Regions from separate parts of the Homo sapiens genome. Here all the other regions are reported to be linked to region 2. Evidence: microRNA targets listed by miRTarBase, many of them from high-throughput screens and not tested one by one. Region 2 holds a microRNA gene; each other region holds the end of a gene's coding sequence.

Evidence for each region. The annotated mature microRNA hsa-miR-520c-3p reads AAAGUGCUUCCUUUUAGAGGGU and lies in region 2 at 2,154-2,175, opposite strand. An mRNA with a match to its seed (bases 2 to 7 or 8) in the 3' UTR can be bound and repressed. Matches are read on the target gene's strand: a 7mer-m8 pairs with bases 2 to 8, a 7mer-A1 pairs with bases 2 to 7 and ends in A, and an 8mer does both.
Region 1: miRTarBase lists AVL9 as a target of hsa-miR-520c-3p. Seed matches in the 3' UTR shown: 7mer-m8 at 1,807-1,813 and 8mer at 1,378-1,385.
Region 3: the mRNA of FGF7 is a reported target of hsa-miR-520c-3p. Seed matches in the 3' UTR shown: 7mer-m8 at 1,620-1,626 and 7mer-m8 at 1,154-1,160.

What each region holds. Positions count from the first base shown.
Region 1 is chr7:32,583,536-32,586,535 of GRCh38, reverse strand. It overlaps AVL9 (AVL9 cell migration associated), which reads right to left. Exons shown (of 16, transcript NM_015060.3): 16 at 1-2,744. The coding sequence ends at 2,629. It also overlaps the pseudogene DPY19L1P1. Among named protein-coding and RNA genes, the nearest start is that of AVL9, 90 kb to the right of the region's middle.
Region 2 is chr19:53,705,329-53,709,680 of GRCh38, reverse strand. It overlaps MIR520C (microRNA 520c), which reads right to left and starts at 2,228; the gene lies at 2,142-2,228. It overlaps MIR526A1 (microRNA 526a-1), which reads right to left and starts at 3,429; the gene lies at 3,345-3,429. MIR518C (microRNA 518c) reads right to left here and starts at 946; the gene lies at 846-946. It overlaps LOC107985346 (a long non-coding RNA gene), which reads right to left. Exons shown (of 5, transcript XR_001753998.1): 4 at 2,474-2,596; 5 at 1,372-1,412.
Region 3 is chr15:49,484,223-49,487,222 of GRCh38, reverse strand. FGF7 (fibroblast growth factor 7) reads right to left here. Exons shown (of 4, transcript NM_002009.4): 4 at 1-2,913. The coding sequence ends at 2,719. The region is part of intron 11 of FAM227B (family with sequence similarity 227 member B); the gene reads left to right. Among named protein-coding and RNA genes, the nearest start is that of FGF7, 62 kb to the right of the region's middle.

The sequences.
Region 1 (3,000 bases), not on the chromosome of region 2:
GCTGCTGCTTCTATGCTGGCCACTTGGAGCCTAGAATCCAAGCCTGAAGTATGTGTGTGTGTGGGGGGGGGGGGTCACAGGACCAGGGGTGAGGCTTCCTGCCTTTGATTGTGCGAGCTGCCTTGGGGCCCCTGCCAACAATACAACAGCCAGTGTTCCTTGAAAAACTCCACCTCCCAGAACCTGAAGGAAATATAGCTATGGTCTTTTGACCATTTCTATGATGAAAGTTGTATCTTCTGAGATACTTGTTTTATGTTGGAAAGTCAGTAAAGTGACCACTAAGAGTCAAACTCTTAGCTAGAAATGTTAATAGAAAGTCCGATCAAAGTGTATATTCAATGAGGAACAAGTGATATTAAAGCAAAGTTAAACTTCATGTAACTATTTTTATTTCAGTGGATTCCAAAGCATGAGTTGGGCTGCTTTTGAATAGTGGGAGACGGGAGTTTACCCCGATCACAGAAACCATACCAACTGAAAGACAAATCAGCATCTTGCTGGACGACCCCTCACAGAGCTCCTAGATCCTTGAAGTGTGAACTTCAGCAGCTGAGAGGTAACAATTGTACACAAATCACACTATCATGCTCCAACGAATGATGTGGCCCTTATGAAACAAGATGTTAGAATGAATTCTTTATAGTCTCAGCGCAAAAAAGATTCAAGTACTGTTTAAGGTTTTTGTTTGGTACTACTTTCTTCTCTTCAAACAGCATTTCCTGAGGTTAACTTTCTTGGAAGAAGTGGAATTAATGGAGTTCTCACATTCAGCCCTTCAATTTATCATCGCTGAATTCTTGAGTTATGCTCAAATGAGTAATACAATTTGTGTTTAGAAAACACAAAGTGGAAAATTTAGAGACATTTAGATTATGTTTCTATGTTCATTTCAAATGCCTTGGGAGCATTTACTTCTTAAACATTTAGTGAGGAATAAACCAAATATAATCAGGGCCCTCCTTTATTTCCCCAGCAATCTGGGATAGATCATACTCACAATGTATTTCCCAAGTATCCCTTGTTACTAAAAGGCAGTCTGTTCCCCGTAAGTACTCTCTGAGAACAGCCATCCCAGGTATCCTTGAAAAGCAAATGAGAGCTGAGCATGGCAAACACACGAGGTCCAGCTGTGTACAAATCATCAGTAGATGGCACACACATGCATGTATGTGCCTAACATGAAACCAGATATCCTTTCTCAGATGACAGATGTCAAGGCTGCAGTTTTCTTCTCTTGCCTCTTACTTTGCTGAATATAAACTAAGATGAGATTTCTATTTAATACTTACAATCACCTTGCTTTTCTTTTAAGATACTTCTAGAAGGGGGTAGGGATTGATTATAGGAGGACTTTCAGTTAGGGAAGTAGAAGACTAAGTGCTTTGAAAAGCTTTATGAATAAGACTACGAGAAAAGCTGTAGGTCTGCAAACACCCAATAGAAAACTGTTTAAAAAAGAAACAGGCCAGGCGCAGTGGCTCATGCCTGTAGTCCCAGCACTTTGAGAGGCTGAGGCGGGCAGATCACTTGAGGCCAGGAGATCAAGACCAGCCTGGCCAACATGGCAAAACCCCGTCTCTACTAAAAATACAATAATTAGCTGGGCATGGTGGCGCATGTCCATAATCCCAGCTACTTGGGAGGCTGAGGTACAAGAATTGCTTGAACCCGGGAGATGGAGGTTGCAGTGAGCCGAGATGGCACCACTGCACTCCAGCCTGGGCGATAGAGTGAGACCCCGCCCCCCCCCCCCCCCCAAAAAAAAAAAGAGAAACAGATGGCACAAACTCTGGAATAAAAAAAAAGTGCTTGTAAGACTGCAACATGACTGCGGTTGAAAAATAAACACATAGGTCTTCTTTGAAAGTATTGCCCTACAGACACATTCATGTTAAACTGCTTCAGTATCATCGAACCATCACTCTGCTATTTCTCTGCACACCCACCTGCACAGTTATAAAGAGGAGGAAAGCACAGTGATACTCCTTGATGTCTGAAACCAAGTTTTTAAGGATGTGGAAAGAACAAACTAAAAACGTAAAACAAAACACCCAATCCTCAGAACTACCACCTCTAACTTTCATGTTTCTGGGAGGAAGTGAATTAATAAATGTTTTGTGGGTAGAAAGCAAAAAAATCATCACATAATTCAGCAAAATAATGAAGGCCCAACTGTATGACCCCTTCACTTTATAAGCACGTTTTAAGGCCAACTTTAGAGAAAATGGTAATATAAATTAATTTTAGCAAGTATAAATTACAGTGACCATCTAGATATTCAAACACCAAAACAGAACAAAATTTACATAAGTAAAAACTCTTCTAAAGTAAACCAATGTACAATATCAGAACTCAAAATTCATTAGAAGGTTCACTGTATGTTTTAATCAGGCTCAGACTGAAATAAAAGTAGTCAATTGAAACCCCAACCTGGAAAGCCATCCCTGCTATGGCTGTGATTTCATCATTTCGGCATCCCGAAACATTCACTTAGAGCAACATCCATGTAAACAGTTCGACATATGGTCCCCTGCTGTGGATCTGTGGCTAGTAACAGCCTGGGAGCAGCAGACAGACAGGGGACACTTAAACCTCAGAAAGCAATAGCAGCCTCTGACGCCTTGCTCAAGGCTTCTCATCTGGTGGCTCAGTGAGACTTTGGGAGGTGGAAGTGGTGAAAGTGGAAAGCCATGAAGACATAGCTGTCTTTGCACTGGAAAAAGCTCCTCCAACTGACTGGCCTGGATGGAGAGGAGAAAAACAAAAGGAAAAATGTCTTAACTTTTGTTACGAGACAGTGAAAGACCAACATAATTAATACATTTTTAATTAAAAATTTAAAAAAATGTTTTTTGAGACAGCGTCTTACTCTGTCGCCCAGGCTGGAGTGCAGTGCAGTGGTCACGGCTCCCTGCAGCCTTGACATCCTAGGCTCAAGTGATCCTCCCACCTCAGCTTCCCAAGTAGCTAGGACCACAGGCCTGTGTGACCACACCT
Region 2 (4,352 bases):
GTGGCTCACGCCTGTAATCCCAGCACTTTGGGAGGCCAGGGAGGTGGATCACTTAAGGTCAGGAGTCGAGACCAGCCTGGCCAACATGGCGAAACCCTTTCTTGTCTAAAAATACAAAAATTGGCAGGGTGTGTTGGTGGGTGCTTGTAATACCAGCTATTTGCGAGGCTAAGGTGAAAGAATCACTGGAACTCCACGGTGAGTGGAGATCCTGCCACTGCACTCCAGCCTGGGCGACAGAGGTGGGAGTTACAGTGAGTGGAGATCCTGCCACTGCATTCCAGCCTGGGCGACAGAGCCAGTCTCCATCTCAAAATAAAATAAAATAAATAAAATAAAACAAAATAAAATAACAGGCTGGGCACGGAGGCTCACACCTGTAATCCCAGCACTTTGGGAGGCCGAGGCGGGTGGATCATGAGGTCAGGAGTTTGAGACCATCCTGGCCAACGTGGTGAAACCCGGTCTCTACTAAAAATACAAAAATTAGCTCGGCATGGCGGTGCGTGCCTGTAATCCCAGCTACTCAGGAGGCTGAGGCAGGAGAATCGCTTGAACCACGGAGTCGGAGGTTGCAGTGAGCTGAGATTCCGCCACTGGACTCCAACCTGGTGACAGAGCGAGACTCCGTCTCACACACACACAAAAATAAGAATTAATAATAATAATAGAGCAAGACATGACCCCAAGAGATCTAGTTTGGAGTGCAACCCCTCCCTCTCCAGCCTGGGCAACAGAGACTGGTCTTGGAAAAAAATAAAACCAAAACAGAACCCTGCCGTCATCCAAGCCTGATAAGCATGCTCTGCGAATGTATTACCAAGATCAGCATCAACTTCAACGTTGCTTTTCTCAAACCGTAACACTCTAAAGAGAAGCGCTTTGTTTTCTTTCAGACAACAGAAAGTGCTTCCCTCCAGAGAGTCACAGCATGAGATCTTCTCGCTCCAGCCATCTGGGATTTTTGTTGAAATTTTCCTTGACCAGGTTAAGATGGACACAAATATAAAGATGCATTTATTCGCTGTTTGACCGTTTTCTGGAATCCAGAACATAAACCTCTAAAAGGACAATCTCCAGGCTCAGCAGATTAGCCTTGTTCATCAAGGGGAATCCTCCTAAGTTTTGTCTCCAAGGAGAAAAAGCAATGCCCACTACACATACCTTACCTTTAACCAAGAGAATTGAGGTGGATTTCTAGAGAACAGCAATGGATTGAGTCACATGGTCACTTGAGTTCCAGCACAGGGACACACAGTCATGATGGGAGCATCCAAAATGGAATCTAAATTTGCCAGGCGTGGTGGTGCCCACCTGTAATCCCAGCTACTCAGGAGGCTGAGGCAGGAGAATTGCTTGAACCCGGGAGGCGGAGGTTGCAGTGAGACGAGATCGTGCCAATGCACTCCAGCCTGGGTGACAGGAAAGAAAAAAAGAATATGCATTGTCTTACACACAAACATTCTCCAGGATAGAGCACTGCCTAGGCCGTAAAAGCTCCTCAATAACATTTGTACAGAAGTACGGGTGGAGTGCAGTGGCTTACACCTCTAATCCCAGCACTTTAGGAGTCGAAGGCGGGAAAATTACATGAGCTCGAGTTCAAAACTAGCCTGCCCAACATAGTAAAACCTCATCTGTAAAAATACAAAAGATAGCCAGGTGTAGTGGTTCATGCCTGTAGACACTAATTCAGGAGGCTGAGGTGGGAGGTAGAGGCTGCAGTGAGTTGAGGTCACAACACTGCACTCCAGCCTGGGCAATAGAGCCAGATGGTGTCTCAAAAAAAATTAAAAAAAAAAAAAATACACAAACAAAAACAACCCCAAAGTGATATAAGAGTATTCTCTGTGTGCAGAAGACTATTTTGTGTGAATATAATTATACATAGAAGATTATATGATAACATGTATATATTTTGGAGACCCTGTCTCAAAAAAACAAAGTTCCATGTACTATATGCTCACATAAAGAATAATTCCTACATACTAGTGCTTGGGCAGCAAGAACGAAACTCCATCTCAAAAAAAAAAAAAAGAAAAAATCAAAACAAAAACAGAAGCCCACCATCATCCATCTCTGATGATAAGCATGCTCTGAAAATGTATTACCAAGATCAGCATCAACTTCAATGTTGCTTTTCTCAAACGGTAACCCTCTAAAAGGAAGCACTTTCTTTTCTTTCAGACAACAGAAAGTGCTTCCCTCTAGAGGACGACAGCCTGAGATCTTCTTGCTCTGGCACTGTGGATTTTTTGTGGGAATCTTCCTTGACCAGGTTAAAATGGACGCAAAAATAAAGATGCATTTATTTGCCCTGTTTGCATGTTTTCTGGAATCCAGAGCATAAATCCCTAAAAGGACCATCTGCAGTTCTTTGCTTCAAAGAATCAGCAGGTTAGCCTTGTTCATCAACGGGCAATCCTCCTGAGTTTTGTTCCCAAAGAGAAAAGGCAATGCCTACTACACATACCTTATCTTTAACCAAGAGAATTGGGCTGGATTTCTAGAGAATAGCAATGGATTTTGAGCCAAGTGGTCGCTTGAGTTCCAGTACAGGAGCGCACAGTCCTCATGGGGGCATCCGAAATGGAATCTAAGATGTTGAAGAATATACACTGTTGTAGGCACAAACATCCTGCAGGGTAGACAACAGGCTACCCTGTAAACGCTCCTCAATAAAATCTGAGCAGAAACAGACGAGTATAGGTGGGGCACAACAGCTCACACCACTAATCCTAGCACTTTAGGAGGCCAAGGTGGAAGATCACCTGAGCTAAGGAGTTCGAGACCAACCTGGGCAACATGGGGAAACCACATCTGTACAAAAAAACCAAAAGTTAGCCAGGTGTGGTGGTGTATGCCTGCAGACAGCTATTCAGGAGGCTGAGCTGGGAGTTGGAGGTTGCAGTGAGCCGAGATCGCACCACTGCACTCCAGCCTGGGCGACAGAGTGAGACTCTGTCTCTAAAATGAATAAGTTAAAAAATAAATACATAACAATAATACAAAAATTAGCTGGGCGTGGTGGCATATGCCTGTAATCCCAGCTGCTCGGGAGGCTGAGGCAGGAGAATCATTTGAACCTGGGAGGCAGAGGTTGCAGTGAGCAAAGTTCCTGATACTGAGCTCCAGCCAGGGTCACAGAGCAAGACTCTGTCCCAAAAAAGAGGGCCACTTGAACCCAAGAGATCTAGGTTGGAGGGGCCACCATACTCCAGCCTGGGCAACAGACACCCTGTCTTAGGAAAAAAAACCAAAAAAACCCCACAAAACCCCAACATCATCCAAGTCTGATTATAAGCATGATCTCCAAGATCAGCATTAACTTCAATGTTGTTTTTCTCAAAGAGTAATCCTCTAAAAGGAAGCGCTTTCTCTTCTTTCAAGCAACAGAAAGTGCTTCCCTCTAGAGGGTCACAGCCTGAGCTCTTCTTGCTCCAGCACTGTGGGTTTTTTGTTGGAATTTTCCTTCACCAGGTTAAAATGGACACAAAAATGAGGATGCATTTATTGGCCCTGTTTGCATGTTTTCTGGAATCCAGAACATAAAACCCTAAAAGGACCATCTCCAGTTCCTTGCTTCAAAGTCTCAGCAGGTTAGCCTAGATCATCGAGGGACAATCCTCCTGAGTTCTGTCTCCAGAAAAAGCATTGCCTACTACACATACCTTACATTTAACCAAGAGAATTGGGCTGGATTTCTAGAGAACAGCAATGGATTTTGAGCCAAGCGTTCACTTGAGTTCCAGCACAGGGACACACAGTCCCGATGGGAGCATTCAAAACTGAATCTCCCATGTTGAAAAATATACATTGTTGGCCGGGCGCAGTGGCTTATGCCTGTAATCCCACCACTTTGGGTGGCTGAGGCGGGCGGCTCACATGAAGTCAGGGGTTTCAGACCAGCCTGGCCAACATGGTGAAAAAAAAAATACAAAAGTAACCGGGCGTGGTGACGGGTGCCTGTGATTCCAGCTACTCAGGAGGTTGAGGCAGAAGACTTGCTTGAACCTGAGAGGCAAAGGTTTGAGTGAGCCGAGGTCCTGCCACTGCCCTCTGGCCTGAGTGACAGTGAGACTCCATCTCAAAACAAATAAATACATGAATAAATAACATGCAAATATTAGCCAGGCATGGTGTCAGGCACCTATAATCCCAGCTACTCAGGAATGTGAGGCAGGAGAACTGCCTAAAACTGGGAGGTGGAGGTTGCAGTGAGCTGAGATCACGTCACTACACTCCAGCATGGGTCACAGAGCAAGACTGTCCGAAAAAAGAGGACCATTTGAGCCCAAGACACCTAGGTTGGAAGTGCCAACACACTCCAGCCTGGGCAAGAGACCCTATCT
Region 3 (3,000 bases), not on the chromosome of region 2:
AACAAAAGGTGAATAGGAATCAGAATTGAAAACTACATAATTTCTTTTCTCCTTTTGAGTCAAATCATCACAGTATAGATTAGTCATTGTGTATGAAGTGCATTGCCAAGACATAGTCACATTTGTGTACAAATGTAAAGGCTATATCTCAACAGAAATAAAAAACAAAAACATGCCAAAGACCATTAGCTAATAATACTAATAATCGAAGAGTAGAAAGCATGTGCTAACTGATCTAGACTCTTGTGACAGCTGTATATCTACCCAGCTGCGTGACCTTAGGTGTATCAAAATCTCAATTTCCTAGACTACAAATGAGTAAGAGGGATGGAGGCCCCTTACAGTTTTAATATTCTAGAATTCTAAAGGTGTGTAACTAGAGCAAATTTTATTTTCTAAAATTTGCATAATAAATTTAAAAATAGGAGAAAAACAAATAATTAAAGTACATATTTCTAGAAGTCTTTTTTAGGTGACTTATACTACCAGGAATGGATTTACCACTAAATGTTGGTTTTGCCTAATTCAGCATTGCTATGTAATTTGATGGAAGTATAACTCCATAGACAAAGAGCATTTGGTCCTAACATAGCTTGTATTTTATATGTATATACACTATTTCTATTTAAATTTCTGTATAGTCATGTTTTACCCTTTTAAAATGAAGATTAGTTTTAGTGTGTATTTTCTTTTGTCTATAAACATTCAGTGAATTCACACTGAAAACTGATTATGAACAGATAGTCTGCTAGGCACTAAGGAAACACATATGAAAAACTAAGTCCTCCTCTGCCCTCAATATGCTCACAAGACTACAGTTACTGAAGCCTGACCTCAAAACCTAGCTAGCAAAGTCCTTGAATCAGGTGATAGTTCAGAATACCATTCATGCTCTCTCCCAAGAGTATATCTGAGGAAGGGCAGTTCTTTCTAGTTTTCTACATCCTGGTCGTATAGGTCAACCACAGGAAAATTAAATGAATCTATTGTTTTTGTTGACCTAGCCTTTTCATATAACTCTCATCTATAAATGTATTACCAAATACTATTTATGTAAAGGGACTTGAATGACAAATATTTTGAAATTAAAACCACAGTGGTTAGCATACCTTTTAAATTAGATAAATATTGACCTCCCATTGGTGAACATATAAAGTGCTACCAAGATCTGCCAATGAAAGACTTTTGAAGTGGAAATTCATCCTTGTAATAATCCTGTTATCTGTAGGCTGACCTCAAGCCTTCATGACATTCAGGGCCCCTTATTCTTAACTGCATCTTCTATTTTGGGCATTGTGCTCTTGCCATCTAACAGGAAAACAACTTTCAGTGCTGCCACCTTTTGAACAGCAGAGATTTCTAGAGATTAGAAAATTACTAAATTTAAATATACATAGTTTTAAAATATGATATTTTCTACCCATGCATTCAAATATATTCTAACTTTAAAATCCTGTAAATACTTATATTTGTAATGATTTTACTTATATGATCCAATTAATTGGCAAGAATATGTGGTGAAAGATTTTTTACATATTTGTATTGTTCTGTGTGAGACATCTATTGTAAGCATTGCTTCAGGCTCTTATTTTTGTCTGCCTTCCAGGATTTGCTGGCCCAAGTGCTGTGTGCTAGACTTAGTGTCAGTCAGAAAAGGGAGGGAAACTTGCCGTTGAGCCAGACAGTTTTGTTATTCCTTTAAAATTAAAAGCATATGAAACAGATACAGCTTATTAAGGTTTTTTTTTTATAAATAACATAAACTTAAATAACAAAACAATAAAGTTCAAAAACAACTTAAAATAGAGTTTAATGCTGTAACCATAGGAAAAAAGCATGATTATTTGTGGGAAGAACATTATTAAAAGCCATATTCCCAAATATGAATTATACAAAGATAGATTATGTTACTTGAAAAAAACTTAAAGATTTCTCAATTTTACTTTGAGGATTTATAAAATGTTATTTTGTGGCAAGTAAGATGAAGTACAGTATTATCATCAATCACTGTTGCTATCTTATATACAAGATTTTTGGAAACATCCTTTTAGCAATACCCTTTCCACTTGAGCAGCATTAGAAATTTTGTTCTTATTTATAGGTATAAGCATGTTCTAATCCTGTACTTTTGTTAAATTATCTATTTTATTGACTTTCATAATAGTTTTTTTGAGAATTTTTTTTCTGATTAGAGTTTAAGTAGATTATAATTTTTCACTAGAAAGCATTTAAAATGCTGCTCATTTTCCATAGTTAGTGTGGCTTGATTATCTGACAAATCCTGCCAGAAGCCTGTAGGTCTGATATACCTTATATAACAACATCTGTATTATTATTATTATAGCAGCCATTTTATAAGCAGATAGGAATATTTAAATAATCATTATCAGATAATCAAATCTAACATACTCTTAAGGGTAAATTAATTTAAGAAAAAAATTACTGTTACTAACATCATGATTGTACAACCAGTTTTACAATTTTTTACAACCTTTAGTTACTAAATCTGATTTTTGTGTATACTTTTCAAATCTTTCTTTAATGCAGTGTCTTAAAACAAACATAAATGCACAAGTCCAGCTTGATCAGTTTTTCAGTAGTTTTCCAGCCTTTCTTGATTACTAAAAAATAAAAGGAAAGAAAATTTTGAGAAGAAAGAAAACAGTCCACTTAAAGAAATCTCCCTGCTGGAACTGGTTCTTTATATACCATATGCAATTAAGTTATTGCCATAGGAAGAAAGTGGGCTGTTTTTTGTTCTTTCTTCGTTTTTTTTCCTCTTACAGGAATCCCCTTTTGATTTAAGGCAACAAACATTTCCCCTCCGTTGTGTGTCCATTTAGCTGATGCATATGTGTTGTAATGGTTTTCCAGAATTAGTTCTTTGAAGTTACAATCTTCATTGCATTCTTTCTGTTAAAACAAACAAACAAACAGACATTATCCAAATGATTTTTAGAGAGGCTCAATTAAACGAAGAGTAAGCAGGTAATATTTGGT